2 separate regions of the Homo sapiens genome follow, and region 2 is linked to region 1. The links come from fine-mapping of genetic effects on gene expression. A gene starts in region 1. The other region holds a variant in brackets. All regions are shown on one strand. Distances are between the middles of the regions.

What was found. PIP is the estimated chance that this variant, and not a neighbour inherited with it, causes the effect.
Region 2: its variant is fine-mapped to the expression of AOAH in whole blood (TOPMed, PIP above 0.99).

The regions. Positions count from the first base shown.
Region 1 is chr7:36,717,963-36,728,729 of GRCh38, forward strand. It overlaps AOAH (acyloxyacyl hydrolase), which reads right to left and starts at 6,532. Exons shown (of 21, transcript NM_001637.4): 1 at 6,060-6,532. The coding sequence starts at 6,186.
Region 2 is chr7:36,588,287-36,600,470 of GRCh38, forward strand. It overlaps AOAH (acyloxyacyl hydrolase), which reads right to left. Exons shown (of 21, transcript NM_001637.4): 12 at 6,053-6,144. AOAH-IT1 (AOAH intronic transcript 1) reads right to left here and starts at 11,834. Exons shown (of 3, transcript NR_046764.1): 1 at 11,457-11,834; 2 at 9,875-10,020; 3 at 9,548-9,596. The variant C/T (reference allele first, on the strand shown) is at 6,357.

The DNA of each region.
Region 1 (10,767 bases):
TCCATCAAAATTACTAAATTTTGTTCGTGAAAGGACACCATTATGAAAGTGGGGGAAGGAAACACAGAATGGGAGAAAATATTTGTGAATCATATATTTGAAAAAAGACGTCTATCTAGAATATATGGAGAATTTTTGCAATTCAACAATAAAAAGACAAACCCAATTTAAAGAGGGGCAAAATATTTGAATAGAAATTTTTTTTCAAAGAAGATATACAAATGGCCAATAAGCACATGAAAAGATGCTAACATCATTATCATTTGGGAAATACAAATTAAAACCAAAAATGAGATCTCACTCCACAGCTACTATGATGGCGATAGCAAAATGATGAATAACTAAGTGTTGGCAAGAAGGTGGAGAAGTTACAACTTTCATACACCGCTGGTAGAAATGTAAAATGGTGCAGCTGCTTGGAAAATAGTTTGGCAGTTCCTCAAAATGTTAAAGATGGTATTACCGCATGCCCTAGAAATTCCACTCCTAGGTATATACCCAAAAGAAATAAAAACACATGTCTACACAAAATCTTGTACATGAATATTCATAGCAGAATTATTCATAATTACCAAGAAGTGAAAACAACTCAAATGTTCATCAACAATGAATAAATAACAAAACCAAGTATGTCCATACAATGGAATATTATTCAGCTGTAAGAAGAAACAGGGTTGATACATGCCACAACATGAATGAACCTTGAAAACATTATGCTAAGTCAAAGAGGCCTGTAGCAAAAGGCCATGTTTTATATTATCGTATTTATGTGAAATGCCCATAGAGACAGGAAGTAGAGTGGTGATTTCCAAGGGCTATAGAGAGAAGGAAATGGGGAGTAAATGCTAAGAGAATTGGATTTTTGGGGGGAGCAGTGAAATGTTCTGGAATTAGATATTGGTGATCAATGCACAACTCATGAATATACTAAATGCCACTTTTACACTTTAAAAGAGTGAAGTTTATGATACATGAATTATATTTCTCAATAAAGCTGTTATTTAAAACAATATGGGAAAAATATTTTACCCTGATTTAATCACATCAACAATAACATAATCATAATTAAAGCGAGGAATAAGCCAAGTTTTAACTAACTATGTAACCTTGAACAAGTTACTTATTTCTGTCTTTATTTTTTCGCCTACCAAACAAGGATAATGATAATACAGACTTCATAAGGTCATTGTAATGATTAAATGGGTTAGTACACATAAATCTTTTGGAAGATGGCTTATCATACAGTCAGTGTCCAATAAATGTTGGCAATTATTATAATTATTAACTCGCAAATGTAATTTGTGTGGCTGAAGAGCACTTGGCTGTAGTGACTTTCTCCAGGCATCACTCCAATTAGTCCACATTCAAGTCAGAGAAAAGATGGAAGGTACAACCCCCACGGAGAAGTGTTGGGGAGACCAGTAGCAAAACAAACTTTATGAGTAAGAAGCAAATTTGATTACTCAACAATAATCTTCATAAAAATGGATGAAACCCAACTAGTTCAGTTGATCTTGAAGAAAAATAGGAAGGAAGAACTTCTTCCATGTGTTGGGAAGGTGATATAAATATTTTAGGTTATTATGATCTTACAAATCAAGGCAAGGATATCCTTTTATGATCAAGGTAAGAATTTATGTTGGAATGGCAATTAAAAGACAGCTGACAACTAACAAAAATGAAGAGGGCTGGACACGGTGGCTCATGCTTATAATCCCAGCACTTTGGGAGGCTGAGGCAGACAGATTGCTTGGGCCCAGAAGTTTGAGACCAGCCTGGACAACATAATGAGACCCTGTCTCCACGAAAATAAAAATAAAACAATTAGGCAGGCATGGTGGTGTGCACCTGTAGTCCCAGTTACACAGGAGGCTGAGGTGGGAGGATCACTAGAGCCTGGGCTGTTGAGGCTTCAGTGTGCTATAATTGTACCACTGCACTGTAGCCTGGGTGATAGAGTAGGACTTTGTCTTTATTAAAAAAAAAAAAAAGATGAATCATTCTTGCTCAGATGGGATGATCAGAAATCCAGCTGCCTAATCACCTTTTGCTCAGAAAAGTTTCTGTGGCCTGGGTTCTTTCAGCAAGCAGGTGAATGCAACAGAATCTTTGAGATAACTGAAGCTTCCTTCTTTGACTAGCAATATTCAGGTAGAAATGTTTCTAGAATTCTAAAGTTTTTTTTTTTGTTTTGTTTTGTTTTTTGAGATGGAGTCTCGCTCTGTCGCCCAGGCTGGAGCGTGGTGATGTGATCTCGGCTCACTGCAACCTCTGCCTCCTGGGTTCAAGCGATTCTTCTGCCTCAGCTCCCTGAGTAGCTGGGACTACAGGCATGCCCCACCGTGTCCTGCTAATTTTTGTATATCTATATTTACATTTTTTTTTTTTTTAGTAGAGACAGGGTTTCACCATATTGACCAGGCAGGTCTCAATCTGCTGACCTCGTGATCTGCCCACCTCAGCATCCCAAAGTGCTGGGATTACAGGCGTAAGCCACCACACACGACCTAAAATCTTAAAGTTTTAAACACTCTTTTTGAGGCTATTACTTCACCTTCCCCAGGTGGCTTTATGAGCGGAGTCTGCAGTGCCTGCTTCCAAGCTATGAGCCTCTGCCCTGCACTTCATGGTGCTCTGCTGGCTCTGGCATTGGCAGTTTAAAGAGTTTTAGAGAAAGGGTATTATCAAGGGCACTAAGGGCCCAGTTCAACATTCATTTTAAAGGACTGTAATCTTTACAAGGCTCCAGGTTTTCGTTTTCCTCTAAACTGGACAGTGAATTTCCTGAAGACAGACATTCTAAAAATCCTTCCTCTCCTTCATCTGTGTATCCCTGCTCTCGCATATTCAGTGGCCATGTGAGAACTGAGTGCGCGGAAATGTTTGGGGACCACCTTTCTGCTGGAGGGTTTGAAGTCATGTAACCCTGCTTTTTGTCAGAAAGTTGTTAGGGTGTTGGCAACAAATGTAGAGTTAGAAGAACTCCAATCAACAATTCCTTCTCTTTTCTCCTCTCTTCCACACACTTCTTCCTCTTCCCACCAGCTGCGAGAGAGCGGACCTCACTGCTTCCTGAGATGCTTCCCACATACAACCCTTCCAGCAGGTACACCCCAGGATCCCGTATCAGGAGACACTCGCTCCCCAGCTTCTGGAGCCATTGGTCTGAAGGATTATGCCAGCATCAGAGTCCCTTGCCAGAACTGTCTCCACCAACGGGAGATGTCTCAAAATTACAGCCCTCCCCTGTGGTCAGGTCACATCGAGGGACTGTTTGATGTGGGAATTCCAAGACCTGCACCTACTTCAGGACAACTCTGAAGAGCTATTTTAGTCCCAGAGCTCTCAGTGGGACTTCTTTTATGGCTGCAGCACAGCCCGGCTTCTCTCTGCCAACCCCACTGCCTTCCTCTCTTGCTCGTCTTTTTGCCAAGAGCACTTCTCAATAAACTCCCCTGCACACACATTTCTAATCCTGTCTCCCCCAAAAGCCAACTTCAATCAGTGAAGCACCAAGTTGGACCACCTTCAGCCCCTGTCTCAGCACATAGGCAGTGCTCAGTAAGTGTTCATCACAAGACTGGACTCCTCTTGCACCCACCTTTCTTGCTATTATGACAACAGGTGAATAAGTCACCCAGGCAGAGTTAACCAGAAGAAGTTGGGAGTTGCTGGGAAAATGGATGCTAAATCATCCTCAAACCTAATCAGCAACAGAGTCTCCAAGCCCTTGGGGCCATGAGAATTTGTATGGGCAACCAAAGTGAACCTCTGTGAATGATAGAGATGACCACACATTTCTTGACCCTCTCCATCAAAATGAAGGGTCTCTGCCCCCTCCCTTTGAGTCTGGGTGGAGGAACTTGTGAATGCTTTGAGCAATGGAAGATGGCAAGTAATGCTGTGCCTGTTTCCAGACCCAAAACTTGAAAGATTGGCAGCTTCTAATTCCTGTCTTTTGGAATTCTCTCTGGGATTCCTAAGCTGCCAGGTAAGAAAGCCTACTACCCAAGATAGCCATGTGTGGGCACTCTGATGGCACTCCCAGATGAGCCAACCCTCTAGCCATTCCCTCACCCCTAAGGTGCCAAATATGTGAGTGAAGCTGTTTTTGTCAGTCCCAGATCCATCAATCCACCATCCGAATACCACCTCCTAACCTCGGTCACTCCTACATGGAGAAGAAGAATCACCAGCCAGTGTTCGAACAAATTTTTCACCCATAAAATCATAATACAACAAATGGTTATTATTGTAATTTTTGATGCAGCAATAATAGAAAAACCAGAGCAACCCCATCCTGAAATCTCCCCAACACCTCCTTCTTACCCTCTATGACCTCACTGGGAACAGGGCAGAGAAAGGAATGTGTACCTCCTGTCCATTTTACTGAAGTGAAGGTCCAAGGATCTCAGCCCTGACAACTTGCCCAAACTCAAACATTTAGTTTGCAATGAGCCCAGAAGTAAAACTGATTTCATCTGAGCTTTTCTCAAGTGTATTTCCATTTGATGGGCAGTAGGGTTTTGTTTTGAGAAAAATGAAAAGGTGGCAAATAGTTATTTAAGGAAACCAAATACTGGGGGAGGATGATCTCCCAGGCATGGTTCAAAGGACCACACACCTCTGCCTTCAGGTCTCTGGAAAATAGTCTTGGGGAATCTGGGTCTTAATTAAAACAAGACTTTGGAGGCTGGGCGCGGTGGCTCATGCCTGTAATCCCAGCACTTTGGGAGCCAAGGGGGGCGGATCACGAGGTCAGGAGTTCGAGACCAGTGTGGCCAACATAGGGAAACCCCATCTCTACTAAAAATACAAAAAATTAGCTGGGTGTGGTGGTGTGCATCTGTAATCCCAGCTACTCCGAAGGCTGAGGCAGGAGAATTGTGTGAACCAGGGAGGCAGAGGTTGCAGTGAGCTGAGACTGCACCATTGTACTCCAGCCCAGGTGACAGTGCGATAATCCATCTCAGAAAAAAAAAAAAAAAAAAAAAAAAAAGGACTTTGGAAGTAGAGATGCATCTCCTAACATGTACAATGACCTGAGGCCATGATTTTGAGGAAGTAGGACAAATTCAGATATATTTCCATATTGTCTCCAGAAACAATTCCTAAGTGTCAGAATCTGTGTCCAGATTTTCCATTTGCAGCATGTAGCCATCAGACTTATCCTAGAGTTATTTTCCTGGCTTCTCAAGCTAGGATTGTATTTTGAGGTCTGCTCATTGAACAATTACTTACTACTCAGAGTTCTGAGTCTATGTGGCTCCATGGACTGTACCATCTAAATGCCACCACTATTATGAGAATTCCCATGTTATGAGAGCTACAATGTGAATATCAAAGATCTTACCTTACTTCCTGCTCTCATCCAAAAAAAACAAACAAAAAAAACCTCTTGGAAATAAAACACTTCATTAACAGATGAGCCAAGAAGCCATATCAACGCTCAGCGTCTCCAGGTGATCGCCAAATCTGGATTCTCTGAGAGACGGAAGGAAGCTAAGATGGTTGAGTCCTTACTGTGTGCACATGCCACAGATTTACATGCATGGTCACAATTTCCATGGTATCCCTATGAGATGGGTCTCACTCACTTCAGTTCACCAATAAGGACACAGAAGCATGGAGAGGGTTAAGTACATTGCTCCAGGTTTCCACAGCCAGTAGGAAATGGGAGAGAAGGGTAGGAGGAGGGCAGTGATTCAAACTCAGATGTGTTTATATGAGGTCAAAGCCCATGAAAAGCAGTAAAAATTTCAGACTAAAATAGCCTGAAATAATAGTTACCTATACAAGAAGAAAAAATTCCAATCGCCAATGAGGTGGAAGAGTTTTATGCCCAATTTAAACTAGTATGCTTTTTATTCACATAGATGTATGTAGTGTCAATGTCTACTCTTAGACTCCACATTTCTCTGTGTCAGTGAGGTTACTGGTGCCTTACCTGGAATCTTACAATTCTTGATTTAATAAAATATGTGATTTATTACGCAAGCAAAGTACTGGATCCCATTGTTATGTCTACATAGAAAATACAAAAATATTTATTTGCATACCTACACAGGTGTGCCCATTCGAGAGGCTGGGCCTGGACTGGTCATCGTTGGCTGGAGAGGCCGAGGACTGAAGAGACAGGAGCAAGAATAGAGGCGCCACCGTAAGGATTTTCCAGGGGGACTGCATCTCCGAGCTATGCACCCCAAGTGATCACCCGGCTTTGGAAGCTCCCAACTGAGGGATGCTGGAGCTGAGGCTGCAGAATCAATTGATCTCTCTCTCCTTCTCTTCCTCACTCTCTTTGACACACACACCCCACCCTCTCACATACACACTTTTCAATAAGTGTGAAGTGAATAAAAGCACACATAAACACTCACAGACCCACAGCTTGCTCTTGTTGGACCCTGAGAGAGCCACACACAAAGAGCTGGAGGGAGTCTGTGGTGTGCGGTTCTGCTGAGGTAAAGACTGCAGGATAAAGAAAACCCAAGTTGCACAGTGGCACAACTTCCGTGCTCCCTGGCTCAGTGAAGTTAGTGTGCATAAACCCCGTGAGCCTCGAGGCTTGCCGGAACTGATCTGTTGGGTTGGTTAGGAGGCCCTTCCCCTTTCATTCTTGCAAAACAAAACAAAACGATACTAAAGCCAAAACTGAGAAGAAAAAAGAAAAAAAAAACTAATCCACAAGCACACAACCCTTTAACAATTTGATCAGCAGCACCCACATATTGTAGAAATTCTAATTGGTTACATTCAGAACTTACTTAGTCTTGTTTTCAACAGCTTTATATGGTAAGGTTGTGATCCTTATTTTGTTGTAAAAGGATATTCTGGTCAAATAATATCTTTCCTCTGGAGAAATTGGGTTATTCCTTGAAGGGTCAAGGCCTTTTATTTGGTGTGCAGAAAATAAACAGTACAGAAAATAATGGGCAGTTAGCATGGTGGGATTTTAGACCTAATGAGAAAAAACATGGGTTAGAATTAATCAATTCACAGTTGCTAGGCTGTGCACAATGCATCTTTTTTTTCTCCAGAATTTCGAAGTGCATTTTGTGGATGATTTGTTAAGAGACTGATTTTCTGCTCTGAAGAATAGAACTGAACACTGTCTTTCTGAGGGAAAAAAAAAATCGGAACCAGATCATAGATAAAAGACATATAATCTAAATGTTTCTCTCTAAAATAAGATAAAACAAAATCATATGCCATTCTCAGTCAAGATAAGAGGACAGGGCCAAAGTACCACAGTCTAGGTAAGTGTAGGAGGTCATGAGATTCTGTTTCTCTCTGCTTAGGCTCTGAGGGAGCTTATTACAAATTTTGAAATATTATAGAAGCTATCTAAATTGTTAGCAATTAAAAAAAATAGCATTTGGAGTAGCAGGCAAAGTTTTAGAGTAGCATCCTTTCCAGGATGTAGGAAATACCAGTTTTTATGGTTGGAAGATTTCTTGTGCAGTCATTAGTCTTACAAGCACCGATGGGGCTACAATTCCCAAACCTGCTGCAGAGATAGCACAAGTCAGAGTGTTTCCCTAATTACACTTCCAGCCCAATACTGAGGATATCGTTAGGCGTCCATGGGCCTGTGACTTCCTCTGACTCTAAGGTGCTGCTGCTTCAGTTCTTCACTCTGTGACTAAGGGGAGCTCTGGGGTCACTAGGACCACCACAGGGGTGAGGCCTAGAGAAGTTCCAGAGACTTCCAAGGGAGGCTAAATAAAGGACTGATTGATTAGGAACTCAGATTGTGAAGACAGAAAGGCTCATGCTTACGTCTCATGTCTACTGTTTATTCTGAGTAATATATTAGACCAGTGATGTAACTTTCCCCCCTTCAGTGTCTTGTTTTTGTTGTTGTTGTTGTTGTTTGTTTGTTTTTTGAGACAGGGCCTTGCTTTTTCATCCAGGCTGGAGTGCAGTGGTGTGATCACAGCTCACTGCAGTGTTGACCTCCTGGGTTCAAGTGATCTTCCCACCTCAGCCTCCCAAGTAGCTCATTTCTATTGGGATAATGGTAATATCCGCTCCAATGCGCTGCTGGAAGCACTCGAATACATGATGTATCCAAACAACAAAGCAGCATGGCTGGCAAGAAGTAAGTGCTTAGTGCATCTGTCTATGACTCTAGCAGGAGTGTGATGAAACCTGCACCCCAGACCAGCTTCAAGAGAATTCCAAGACGCCCATGGTAGTTGTAGGCCATCATGTCATACATGGGAAATGGTGAGGACAGGAAAAGGGAGGATTTATTGAATACCTTCCAGCTGTGCTACAGCACTCCAGGAGTGTGTGGTCTAGTTTGTCTAATCCATAAATGGGTGAGGACTCTCCTGAGGGCTTCTGGAAGAGCATTTGACACAGGCTTTGGGCCTCTTGAGGCTCTCCTGGTCTCAATGTATAGCTGCGAGCAGGTCTGGAAACTCTTAGAGTGAGAGGGATTTCTTGGTATGCCGGAAATGCAAGTTTTGTGCCCTTCATCGCATGTATGTGGGCCAGGCAGTGCCATTCACAACCATCCCAGGGATGGTCGGCTCTGAAACTCTCTAGTGTGCTCAGGCTTCGGGGCTGGTCACAGTGGGAGTCGCTGACTTAGCTGTGCAGTATTGAGCAAGCCCCTTCCTGTTTCCAGAGGTGACAGTCCTCAGCTAGAAAAGGGAGGTGAGACTATCTACTTCGTAGGAATATATCATGGTAAAACCTGACACATAGGTTTTCAGTAATGGAAGGATTTTTCATGCTTGGAGGGTGAGTTCTTACTGGGCATGATCAAAGGAAGAATGCAGAAATCAGAAAGTGATTTCGCCAGCAGAAGCTGGAACAAAGTGCACGTGTGCACAGACCACTGAACAAAACATCCCTCTCCGTCACCAGGATGGAGTGGACCCTCCCATTTGCACAGTTGTCCTTCACACTGGCTGGTATCATTGCCCCTGACAGGGCTGCCTTTGCTCATCAAGTACTGAGTGCAAATGACTTGGGATCTTTGCACAGCTTGCCAAAAGGCCCTGGACCTACCTGTGGTTTAGAACAACTAGTCAGGCCCTGGAGAATGTTCCTGCAGGACCCCACTGTCAGATGTTCCAATTTTGAATCATCTCGAAATCTGCTCTTGAAAATGAGATTTCTTCCCTGAAGCACTTTGTTACTGATTTCACTCAAACAGCTCTGATTCAAACCACTGCTTTCCCCTGTGCCATGGAAGGCTAAGGCTTTGTGATCCCCAAGTGTTGCACCTGTGGTCTGCTTGTTCAGTATGAATATGCTTCCTGAATATTTTTTGACCACATTGGCCTCAACCACCTCATCCACAGCAAGTTCCTTAATCAGAAAAAAAAAAAAAAAAAAAAGAGGTGGGTGATGGGAGATCCTGTAAAAGCTGGCACTGTCACCAACACGTGTCTCGTCTTAGACTTTCTCCTCTCTCTAAGGCCCAGGTCCATGCTGCCCTGTTACTCCTGGCTGCCCAGGACTGTGTACAGCAGTCCTCAGTTCCCATCTACCAAAACCAGGCCCTCTGCTGCTCCCCTCCTCCTCAGTCAGAGCTTATTAACGCTAGCCTCATTCTATTCTGTTCTGCTGTCTGCTAAGGACAGGGTAAATTAACCCATGCTGAGGATGCATGGGGGCTCATTAAAAGAGCTCTGGGCTAGGATGGGGGGCCTGTGTCATGGGCTCCCCTCCTAGTAGCTGTGTGCCCTGGGTAAGCTGCTCCACCTTTCAGAATACCAGTTTATTTTACTATAGAATAGGGCATATAATGTCAATATTTAAGAAAATTGTGAGAATTAGAGAGACAACATGAATTTAAAAACATAATATTAACTGTTAGATGAATGTGAAGCTGACAATGAATTCACATTATTCTTCTCAAGTAGCATTGAAATTTTGGGGGAAGTTTTTTAAATCAAGATTTTAAAAATTGCTACATAATAACTGTACATATTTCTGGTGTACATGTGACATTTCAATACGTGCATGCAATGTGTAATGATCAAATTAGGGTAATTAGGATATCCGTCATCTCAAATATGTATCATTTCTTTGTCTTGGAAACATTTAAAATTCTCTTTTCCAGCTATTTTGAAATATACAATGAATTGTTGTTAACCAAAGTCACCCTACTGTGCTATTCAACACCAGGACTTATTCCATCTAACTGTATTTCTGTAGCCATTAATCAATCTCTCTTTATTCACCCTTTCCCACCCTTCCAAGTCTCTGGTATCTATCGTTCTATTCTCTACCTCCTTGAGATCACCTTCTTTAGTTTCCACAAGTGAGTGAGAACATGCAGTATTTGTCTTGCTGTGCCTGGCTTATTTCACTTAACATAATAACCTCCAGTTTCATCCATGTCGATGCAAATGACAGGATTTCATTCTTCTTAATGGCCAGATGGTATTCCATTGTGTACATGTACCACATTTTCTTTATCCATTTATCTGTTGATGGACACTTAAGTTGATTTCATACCTTGACTGCTGTGGCTAGTGCTGCAATAAACATGGGTTTATACTACAAAGTATGTCAGTATACCTTTCCAACATACTGATTTTCTTTTGAATACATAACCAGCAGTGGGATTGATAGATTATATATTAGATCTATTTTTAGTTGTTTGAGGAAGCTCCATACTGTTTTCTATAGTGGGCTGTACCATTTATAATCCCACCAACAGTGTGCTAGTAGTGCCCTTTCAAAGCATCCTTACCAGCATCAGTTATTTTTGTCTTTTTGATGATAGCCATTTTAATTGGG
Region 2 (12,184 bases), 130 kb before region 1:
CATAGTGGAAAGCCTTAGTATTGTTGTGAAAGTAGTTTTTCACTTGTGGACCCCCTGAGAGGGTCTTAGAGACCCCACAGGGGTTCATGGACCACACTTGGAGAACTGCTGCTATGGACACTATCCCACTCCAATCAGCCTCACCCAACTTCAGAGGACCACCTCTCTGGTTAATTATTTGTTTTGCAAAGTATAATTATAACAGGGCTAATCATTTGCAATTATATCACATGTAATTTGCGAATAATGGATTTAATAAGGTTATTAGGCCCATTAGTGTTTAGTACTTACATGTCCTTTTTTGAAACATGAAATTAGGTTAGCAAATTTTAGCTGCAATTCCCTACTCTCCAATTTTCTGGCTTTACTGCCCCAAGTGACTTGGTTCAGTGTTATACACTGATTTTCAAAATTATTCTCTCATATAACATCTATTGGGTAGGAGAGAATAGATAACCTTTAACGCTTCTATTCTAGGACACCTCTCACTAAAGGTGTGTTTAAATGCCCCTGAAGAGCATTATTGTACCACTTATAACAATGGCTTTGTCTGAGTATTTGCTACATCTTTGGTTCAATATGCCAAATTTAAGCTGGAGGCAGAGGGAGCAACATTTAATCTAGAAAATGTCATCTGGTTTGCACTCATTTATGCTGACTACAGATCTCAGTTTTATTTCTCCAGCTTGGTGTGACAATTTTGGTAGCTGCTTTTGGTTCTTTTGGCCTTCATTGCTTTTTATGATGAATTTTAGCTTTTTACTTTTTTTGAAAAAGCTCTGATTGCTGCCCTGTTTTTCATCCTTATCACTTATCCTTGTCTGCAGAACCCTACTGACTGGACTGACTCCTGGCCCCACCTTCAGAATAAGGGGATACGAACGGCCAGAAATGCTCAGTTTAGATGTGTTGGGTTCAGGTGGCTATTTTTGTTAAGGACTTAGATGCCTGTTTTCCTCTTTTGGGTTTGCTGGAGAGATATAGTAAACATAAAGGACAATAATGGAGTCCCATGTTTATTTAACAGCCTGTCAAGCACTCAATATCACACAACACAGGGCTTACTGTGCATGAGACTGCACTATACCATAGGCTCTATACCCTGGCCAAACACTGTTTCAAGAACTTCAGGCTCTGACCCATAAAGTTAGCCATGTCTTGTCTTGAGGTACAGGCTAGTTAAGGAGTAGGGGAAGACATAGTGGGTAGCAGAAGCAGGAGCATCTCTCTTGAACAATTTCCCTCAGTACTTCTAAACCAAGTAGCGTCATAAAGTAGGATCATGTTGCCCAATAACCATGCCCAATGAGCGTGGGAGAGAACGTCAGAGATCATCTAGTCCAACTTAACTTGAGCACATAAATGAGGTTGAGGAATGCTAAATGTTCCACCTGGAATAACACAGAATGAGCACCCTTATAACTGAAAATACAGACTTCCTTTCACTCTATCATGCCTACTCTGGGATTTTAAATGATGCTTTCAAATGAGAAGTCCTTCCTTCTTGTAAAAGTTTTGGTATTGTTTCCCATCTTTCTACATGTGGTATTAGATCTTTGGTTTCTTTAATGTAAGTAGGATTTTCCTGTTATATGAATTGCTTTGGAAAGTGATCTGAACATGAAGTACAATTTTTAATCTTAATTTTTTTTACTTTTTTATTTTTACTTTTTTAAAGACAGGGTCTTGTTCTGTTGCCCAGGCTGGAGTACAGTGGCGTGATCATAGCTCACAGCAATCTCAGCAATCTCAAACTCCTGGGCTCAAGCAATCTTCCCGTCTCAGCCTCCTGAGTAGCTAAGGACTACAAGTACATGCCACCATGCCAGGCTAATTAAAAAAAAATATTTTTTTAGAGATGAGGTCTTGCTATGTTGCTCAAGCTGATCTCAAACTCCTGGCCTCCAGTAATCTTTTCACCTCAGATGCCCAGTAGCTATTTTTAATCTTTTAAAAATACTTTTTTCTTCCTATTTACAGTTATACTGCTCTATTGCCAAGCTCTTAACCCCCACAGAGATTTTTTTTTTCTGCTTTTGACCTACTCAATCTCTTCCTGAATCACACTGAAGAAAAATCCCAGTATATTTTTTAAGGGATATCACTTATTGAATTTTCTGAAGCCCAAGAGTCAAGAAAACAGTTTTTGTTAACATCAACTCAACTAAAAGAACTAAAGGTTTGTAAAACTAAGGGGTTATGTTTGTCATTTAATGCATGCACATAATTTCAATTAAAGTTATCTATGAAGGGGATAATAAATTTTGAGAGGACAAAGAGCATAAACAAAGAATGAAAGGGAAGGAGCCATTTCCTCTCCTGATGCTTTCACAAGGCACATTTTCCAAAGGACGCTGTTGACACCCATAGCAGAAGGCTGATCATGATGGTAGGAAGCGCATTCTGGAGATCCAGTTGAATAGAGAAATCCGCCAATTCTGTGGATAAGCATTTGGATTCAAAGGGCATGTGCCCAAAATGCCCATGGGAGCTGTATACACCTCTCAGAAGTGCTGCTTCTGGGTCAACATTCTTTTCATTTTCCTGATTCCACAAATGAGGACCTCCATCATATGCTAATCTCTTTGATATTTTTATATACTTTATAACTTTCTATTCCTTTAATAAGGAGATTGGCCTAGCACAAATTATCTGTGAATATAATTTATACAATGGTATATGGATACTTTAGCTGTAACTACTGCTGGGAGGGACATAGCAAATTATGATCCCACAGATGCAGTGTCATGCTGCCTCTGTTTCTGCTTAATGGGGGAATCCATTGCAACTCAGATTCCAAACAGAGAATTTCCTTTTCCATTAAAAGGAGTTGGTATATTCTTCTCCACTCCAGCTGAGTGGCAGCAAACACAGGCACAGTACACAGAAACAGCTGGCAAAAAGAGCATTCTGAGAGGAACAGCTAGGGAGCTTGGGGTCCCACAAACACATAGAAAGAAAAGTTCCTGCAGGGGAGGTGAACAACCAGCTGTGGTGTGTGCCTCGTTAGAAATACAACAGGTAAGGACAGGACTTAGAGTCAACACTAAGGAAGTTGCTTAAGCAGACTATGCGTTTTTTGTAAGCAGTAATAGAGAACCGAATATAAAAAGGTACTAGGTCAATAAAGACTAGCTCAGGATAGAGATGGTTTTCATATAAGCCACACCTAGATGGTCACTTACTTTGTGAGATGGTGTCAGAATTTCTCTGCATAATGCTTATAAGAGTTAGAAACCATTCATGTCTGAAGGCTCTCAACTTTTCCTCTTCCCCTTACCCCATTGCCATGCTTTGATGGAAGATCCTGTCTGCCTGCTGGGCACTGATCAGGATGATGGGTAAAAACTGCTGCAGGATTGAAGAGCTAGTGGGATTTTACATTGATAAGGGAGTAAACCCCTGGTGGGAGGACAGAACAGATGCAGAAAGGAAAAGGGAGCTTTCCCTCTCATCCCCCAATAGAAACTCAAAATGACTGAACAGAGTCTGTTTGGGAGAAGGAGCTAAGTGTGGGTCAAGTTTTGGGGAAGTTTAGATTTAGGAAATACAGAGCAACTACTGGTGTGTGCGAGCTGTAAGCAGAAAGAGATGAGGAAACATGTTTTTATCTGTTTGCTGGGCATGGTGAATGGATTCCTCTTTCATTCCTTGAGTGACTCCAGTAAAGATTTAAACTACTTGGAAATTAATTTTAAATATCGGATCGGTATTTCTTTTATGGCAACTTCATGGGGCCAAAAGGTAGTTGGGATTTATAGAGTCAATATGTAAAAATTTAAGCTTTCATTAAAGGTACAGTAAACTGTGTTCATTGTTCATACCTAATTAATTCTTTTTGTTATTGTCATAAAAGCCTTGATTGAGAGAAAATTCCAGATACTTTTATTGAGAAATGACTAGACTGGGTGGAGGGCATTTAAACATATATATTTTTTTATTTTCTGATGTTGAAATTGGGGGGATGACCAAGGTTCTCTCTTCTATAAACCTGCTTTGGCTGGGTTATCTCTGGATGTGTTCCAGGTAAAGACAACAGAGGCTGTAGCAGAGGGAAGATGGGACTGAGGCTAGGACTCAGAAAGTCCCAGATGTCTGTGCTTATTGGGACCCTAAGGAGGCATATGATGGGTCACTGAAATAGTGCAGGCCACACCTCTACATGGGGAGGACTTCTCTTGGTTCTTAGTCATTTCTCCATCCCATAGCTATGCTCTCACACAGAGGGACAATGGTTAGAGTGAGCCATATTCCCACACAAAGAATAAAAACAACACAAAGTTTGAGAGGCAAGAACATATCTTTGTTATGATATGACACAAGGTTCCATGAAAACAGACCCTACCACTCTTGGCTGGGCAACCTTGGTCAAGATTCTTATTCTGTCTATTTGCCCTTGGATCTCTCAACTGCAAATGCAGAGAACAATACCCACTACCTCACAAGGAGGTTAAATGAGAGAATATCTATACAACACTCAGTAAATGCTTGGCATATAGTTACTTGTTACTTCTCAAAGGTTACTTCTTACTATCCCTATTAGTAAGTATTTTAGTATTTTTACACTAATGACAAGGACTAGCCTTTTTTAAAATAACATGATTAAGTTTGAAAAGGTATAACTACACTGGAAAACACATCTCCTTGGCTTTCCCTATATTGGCAGATTATTTCTATGTAAATATGAGTACGCTTCCCTGAAGGTTAGTTCCCTTCCTAGTTTCTTCTATGCCCCTTTTATGACCCCAGTCTCCCATGTGTTACCCACCCAAAGGAAGTGACTGTTGATCACTTCCATGAACTCTTTTTCCTCGGAGCCCCGTGGCTCTGTAGGAGACCTGTCATTAGTATATCTTCCTTGCATTACCATTATTTGTTCACTTGTCTCATCTGCCTTAATTGCAATTGACTACAAAGATGGGACAAGCCCTATCTACCTTTAAATGGACACCTGTAACATCTGTGCCTGATTAGGTGGTTAAGTATTTAAGAAATATTTTTAAAGCAGATGAATAAAAATCATCAAATAAATTATTCATGGCACACAATGTTCTTTGTTCATCAGAATAATTGCTTGTTAAAATGATTAATGTCTGTCCTTTGGGGGCATTCCTGTTCCTTACAGATTTGGGTAAATCACACCCCATGCACACTTGCCCTCCTCACAGTTCTCATGGCTTATCTCATGGTGCTTTCCAGCCTTCTGCCATTTTTGCCTGAGTCAGAGAGGGGCTTCCTAGCTGGTTCTGTCCTGTCTTTAGACCTAAAAGCAAAGCTCTACCCTTTCTTCTTTTTTACACATGGAAGCCATTCATTTGCCATCTTCCTTGTGCCTATTAACTGTCATAAATGTTTAGGAGATGTTGGGAGAGAAATTGCCTCTCATATCTGTGACATTCTCCCATCCAAGTACTAACCAGGCCCTGCTTACCTTCCAGAGATCAGACAAGATCTGGTGTGTTCAGGGTGGGATGGCCATAGACTCATATCTGTGGTTTACTACCATGTTAGGGACACTTGCCAAGTTTCACCAGCATCACAGGTGTCCCTGCCAAGTGTGGGCCCTGGGAAGCAGACCCCAGGCCTTAACACCCAGGCATATGTAGTGAATTGGGTTTGTGTGTCATTCAAACTCACCAGGCCTGGTCTCTACCTACAAATCTGGGGCATTAAAGCCAGGATGATTCTAGGACTTTGAGAAGTGCCAATCAGCTTTGGCCATTATCTTTACAAATTTATTTCTGAGAACAAATAAGTAAACTTTGTTTTTCCTTGAATCAGAAAATTTCAGTGATGTGTTTAGTATTTTCCATCAGAGGTAAACTATGGAACTCCACCCCCACCCTGCCCATAGCAGGAATATGCTTTTCTTGCCAGTGCTGCTAAAATACAATTTGCATTACATCCTACTGTATGGTGGATGAACTCAAATTCATGTTCTAGAAGCAGTTCCTAATAATTCGCATTTCAACATCTTGGTAGCAACCCCCATCTCTTGTTCTTTCCTTACACAGAGGTATTGAAATGTCTGAGGGTGCACAAAGACACTTACCCAACAGTGGAGTCCAGAAATCCTGTAGCACCAGAGAGTTGGGGCCAGTCAAGCTCGTTGGTAAGGGCTGTTGGTAGATTGATGAAAGAGTTCTAAGGAAAACAATAAAGTAGCAATTATCAAAATGGTCATTTATTTTCTAAAGGTAGTAAGAAAATTCATGGCCTGAGTGTTGCTCTCTGTGTGTCTGTTTCCCACTCTCAATCTCTCGCTTTAAGGGCTTTTGGTATTCAAGGCAGATGTCTCTAACCTTCAACTTCATCAGGGAAGTCACAATGATCAGCACCACCCTTGACCTGGCTTC[C/T]GCTCAGCTCTTGTGAAACATGCAGAACATTTGGCATCTCAAACACTTGGGAGGGATGCTTCAGCAGACTAAACTTCCCATTCTTACATTTTCTGAGATTTTCTCCATTTTGCAGTTTAGGCCATCAGAAAGTCAATCATCTGAAAAGTAATTAATCTGAAAAATAATGCCTAATCCCTCAGAAAAAAATGCCTTCCCTGGGTTCAAAGCTATGGCCTTAAGGCATTAAGGTGGTGCCCTCTGACCTTCTTGGGGGTCTCAGACATTTTTGAGAATCTAATTGTGGTTCCTTTCCCCACAAAAATGCACGTGTATTTAACCTGGCCTGTGATTTCAGGAGGCTCACGGACCCCCTGCAACTCCTGCACAATTTGTCAAGAACTCCTGATACAAAGTGTTGACAAAAATAGGATTCATTTGAACCACATTTCCATGGCTTGTGCAAAATCAGCAAAGAAAAATGTGATGAGTTACAACCTCATTTTACTCCTTTTATGAGTGACTTCTGGGACTAATCTCTCCTGTGGTCTAAATTTTAGAAAAAGCTTATCTAAATTGGTATGTTTGGAATAGGGCTGCCAGATTTAGCAAATAAAAATAAAGGGTACCAGCCAGGTGCTGTGGCTTGTGCCAGTAATCCCAGCACTTTGGGAGGCTGAAGCAGGAGGACTGCTTGAGCCTAGGAGTTTGAGACCAGCCTGGGCAACATAGTTAAAATTGGTTTCTACAAAAAATAACAAATTTGCTAGGTATGATGGCATGTGCCTGTGGTCCCAGCTACATGGGAGGCTGAGACAGGAGGATTGCTTGAGCCCAGGACGTCAAGGCTGCAGTGAGCCATGATCACACCCCACTGTACTCCATCCTGGGCAACAGAGCAAGACTCTGTCTCAAAAATAAATAAATACATACATAAATAATAAAGGATGCCTAGTTAGGTTTGAATTTCAGGCAAACAAGGAATAATTTTTTGGATTAGTATGTCTCATGCATGCAATGGTTGGAACATACTTATACTTGAAAAATTTGTTATTTATCCTAAGCTCAAATTTGACTGAGTATCTTGTATTTTATCTGGGCATCTTTCTTTGGATGAAAGCTTTAAAAGCCAATATTCCCTTTTTGCCTTCGCTGACTGGAAGCCTCCATGAGTGGCTGCAAGAAGCCTTTGTATTTCTCAATATTGAAAATCCGTGCTCCCTTCGGGTAAATGTGAAAACCTTGAGTCCTCCTTTAATGCTATTTTAAAATTTAAAATAAAGTAATGTCTAAAGACAAGCATGTCAAAACAATTGTAGCTTTAGCATAATTTTCCAAATGGCACATGCCCCTGGCCTCCTGCTTTTTTCCTCATCCATGAAGATCCCTCTCCTAAGGAGACTCTGATGCTAGAGGCTGCGAGGGAAAGAAAAGCCATTAACTCCTTGAAAGTATGTCATTGTTCTTTCTTATTGCAAGGTAGTACATGGGTTTGTTTTAGAAATGCAAACATTATAGTCATTTACAATGCAGAAATGAAAGCCCCCCCACCCCCCGTCACCTTCCCCTAAGAGATAACTCTTGTGAGATAACCACGGTTAACAGTTTGTGTCATATATAAAACAGTTTATACGTGAAATCTACCATAAATCTTTAAACTGGGAAAAACTCAATCCTCCTATTTTCAGAGAGATAGAGAATGAGCACTCAAAATAAATAAAATGCAAATTTATATTTCTTAATTGTGGACTGTTATGGGTTGAATTATGTTTCTCGAAAAGATGTGTTGAAGTCTTAACCCCACCTCAGAATGTGACCTTGTTTGGAAATAGAGTCGTTGCAGATGTAACTAGTTAAGAAGAGGTCATACTGGAATAAGATGGGCCCCCAGTCCAGTATGACTGGTCCTTATAAGAAGAGGAGGAGGAAGAGACAGAAATGAAGACACAGGGGGAAGGCCGTGCAATGGTGGAGGCAGAGATTTGAATGATGCTTCTGCAATCCAGTTAATGGCAAAGATTGCCAGCTGTCTCCAGAAGCTGGAAGAGAGGCATGGAATAAATGTTTTCACAGACCCCCAAGAAGGAACTAACCCTGCTGACATCTTGATCTCAGACTTCCAGCCTCCAGAATTCTGGGGCAATCAATTTACGTTGTTTTCAGCCACCCAGCTTGTGGTACTTTGATATGGCAGCCAAGGAAACTAATACATGGCTTGAATCGGACAATATGCTTGTTGCTTTTATTATTCAAAGGGCTAAGACATGAACCCCTTTACTATGTTTACTTTCAAAATAATTCCTAGAACAAACAAATGTGTTCAAACGCAGCAGCAGTCATCCCATGATATCCTGTATATTTTCTGTGGGTCTCTGAGCTTCCTCTGCTCCTCCTTCTTCAATTGCCTCCTCCTTCCACACATGCCACGAAACCTCCATCCTTATTCTTATCCTAAGTGTGATTTCCAGCACGGTAGGGGCTGGAAGAGGGAGGAGTTGGTCAGGAAGTATGGCGTCCTGGGATGCACCTGTATTAATGATGATTTATCCTCTTTAAAAACCAGAAACAACCCCATAGAAAGAAAGCTCCCAGTAAATCTCAGAGGACCATGCAGTCTCAGTGACAGGTACTTTGTCACCCCTTAGCATTCAGCACCCACCACTTTCTGCTCGAGACTCCACCATTACTGTGACTCAGCTATTATCTGTTTGAGTTTCTATTTCTCCTGCCACTACAAAGCAAAACTTTTCTCTGTGTTTTATCTTATTTTTCCCTACATCTTTCTGCTTACAATGTGTGTTTACTGTAGGATGAGAATATTCATTCTGCCAGACAAGACAAGAAAAACAAATAGAATGGATGAAACTCACAAGATATGTTTAGCAGAGATAGTGAGTAAGCAAGTGGCTTGCGAGATGCAGGCAGAATTTATGAGCTGTGTTGAGTCAGTAACCTGCAAAACACGTTGAAACTTACAAGAATGATATGGTTCTTTTCCACCCCACTCCCTCACCTTTTTCTCTGTCATCCGTGCAATGGCAACTCCAGACTTGGGAAACTGGATGAGGAACTAGGTTTCTGATTCTGTCTGGGACTGCTCTCCCTTTCACAGGAAGGAGTTAGACAAGAACTACGCAGGCATAGGCATACCCTCTGTAGCCTGGCACACTAAGGGAGGGGTAAATAATTCTGAAGTGTGCCAGCAAAGTAGAGAAAGGGCTTTGCTCTAGAAATCGGATGATCTGTCTTCTGCGTCTGGCTCTACAAATACAAAGAAGAAACACAAATCAAGAAAACTCCATGATTGGATCTGACACCACTGGAAATAAGTTCCATACCCCCGGCAACCCTCATTCTCGGTCAGGGGTGGGTGATGAACTTCTTGTCTTCAGTGGCGGAAGAGGGGATGTCGAGAGGAGGGGTAGGGTAGGTGGGAAAACGGCAGGCAATCCTGTCTTGGGAAGTGGGATCTCCATGTTGCTAACACTCTCCAAGCTCAGTTCTCTGTGGATTAATCTGAAGAAATGGGACTCAGCTACCTGGGAGATTCCTGGAATCCTTGCTGATATCTCAGAAACTAGTTAGTCTTGGAATCATCCCCATTAGGATTTCAGCTGGAGTGGACAGTGGCTGGTGCTGAATCACAACTGGGGCCAGGGTGAGTTTGTATTCCTCAGCGGGAGCCCTGGAAGGCCCAGGCAGACCAGGTCACTCGATGAACTTCAAAATATAGCAAACCTGTGCTTTCCTGGTTGAATGTTTTAGACTTCACTTCTGGTGTTAAGCCAAGGCTTTACTGTTATTAGTGTGCAAACTTGGGGAAGATGTATTTCAGTTTCAGTATCTCCAATGACTATAGAAATATCACCTTATTTACTTCAGCAAAACTGTGAGGAAGACCAAAAGACACAGTCAGAAGCAGGTTGACAAGTCAGAGCCCTACTATGTGAAGCATCATGTTTAGGGCAGACCACCTAGTGTCCCTTTCCAAGTGAACTGTCCCAGGTTTAAGAGGAGTGACATTTATTTGCCAGATAATAGAAAAGGTTTGAGCACACTAATAGAAGCCTTGGCATATTTTTTTTCCTTAGTAAATTTGGTAGATAAAAATGAAAAGTAGTGGCTATTAATAGCAAATGTTTTATAGACCCTAGCAAAAAGAGAATGTTTAAGTCCTATCACATTAAACACTAAAAGCCTTATTCACGCAACATTATATCCAAGATACTTCAGGCATTTGAGGCAGGAGGAATGCAAATTAAGATTTTCCTCATCAACTCCTGCTTATTCCTCTTGAGCATTTATGTTCTTAGGAAACTCGTTTTAAATGTACCTTAAATGTACATATGTGAAAAAGACTGAATATTTACCAAGAAAAATTTTCCAAACTTAAAGAGCGTGAGCAACCTAGTGAGTGTTAGATCACTACCGCATTGCTTCAAAATTTCTTCTGACCTTTATCAATGATAGATATTTATTTTTACAGCATAGTTGGCACATGTTTACTATTTTGTGTAATAGTTTCATTTAACGTTTCCCTGTGTGTGGGTATGTGTGTGTGTATTTCCATGCATCGAGAAAGCCCACTGGTTCCCATTTTTGATGGATATTTAGTAAATACAATAATTCGAATTTGGTAATATTTTAAGCCCTAATGTCAGCAAGCAATTGATGTTCTTAAAGCTTTGTTGTGTGGGAGAAAGAGAGTAATGACACCAATCCCTCATTCATCTGATTCTGCCAGTCTTCCAGCAAAGCAGGGAGTATCCTCAGTGCCTTTCCTTCACTGTTTACATTTGGGCTCTCTCCATCCTGCACTGCTGTGGACAATCTACACAGTATATTCCCTTTTCTATTACATGTACCTGCATTAGACCTGAATGGATTATTTTCAAACAGTACAAAGTCACTTGGAGGAATCTAAGTAACTGCTGTTGGAAAAAGATAAAAAATGTCATCACCAGTTAAATAAGCATTGTTTTATCCATTCCCCAGAATTAAAGTCTCAAAGCAGATGGGGGATTGTTACTTTACCAAAAAAAGAAAATAGCTCTTGGGTTGGTATTTTTAATAACGCTGGAGAGTTTCAAGGCCCGGGAATCAAAGACAAGGGCTACCTGCTTAGCGTTGGAACCATGGGTCTCCCAGTTCCGCTAGTTGGCTCCTCCTCCGTCTGTCCTGCAGTGGCGCTTGCAGAAGGTAAGCAGGGTTCCTCCTGCTTTCTGCCTCTCAGTCCCACCGTGCCACCACACTGCCTCCCATCTGCTCAGGTCCCCACCGCTCCCATTACCTTAGTGCCTTTCTTGTGGGAGCACCACATTATGCAACTTTCAGAGCCTTCCTTGGCTTTCACACACACTTTCCTGCCAGACTCCCATTTCTGTAGCCTCTGCTGCATGAATCTGTCCTACAAATAAATGTCTAACCTACTCATGATGCTTGGATGTGCTGTTTCCCAGATAACTTGCATTAAGCGAGAGTGGGGAAGAGAACTAATGCGGGGTTCCCCTTATGTGCCAGGCACTGAGACAGGAAAAACTTGCACAAATTGTTCAATTCAATTACACAACTCTGTGAGGCAGCCTTCCTCCCTCCTCTCCTCCCTCTCTCCCTTCTACAAACACTTTAGAGCAACTACCATGTATCAGATTGGATATTCCCTCTAATAAAGAACAAGTATTCACACCTCAGACAAACAGCAGCAAATTAAATGACCAACCCTTAACCCAGTGAGAGGCTCTGGGAGGGCCCCTCTTATGATGAGCACCTTCCCTTGTTGATTCAGGCCCCTGGAGGACTTCTGTGTTTTCTGTTGTTGAAAGAATCCCTTATGCAAGGCAGCGCAGGGC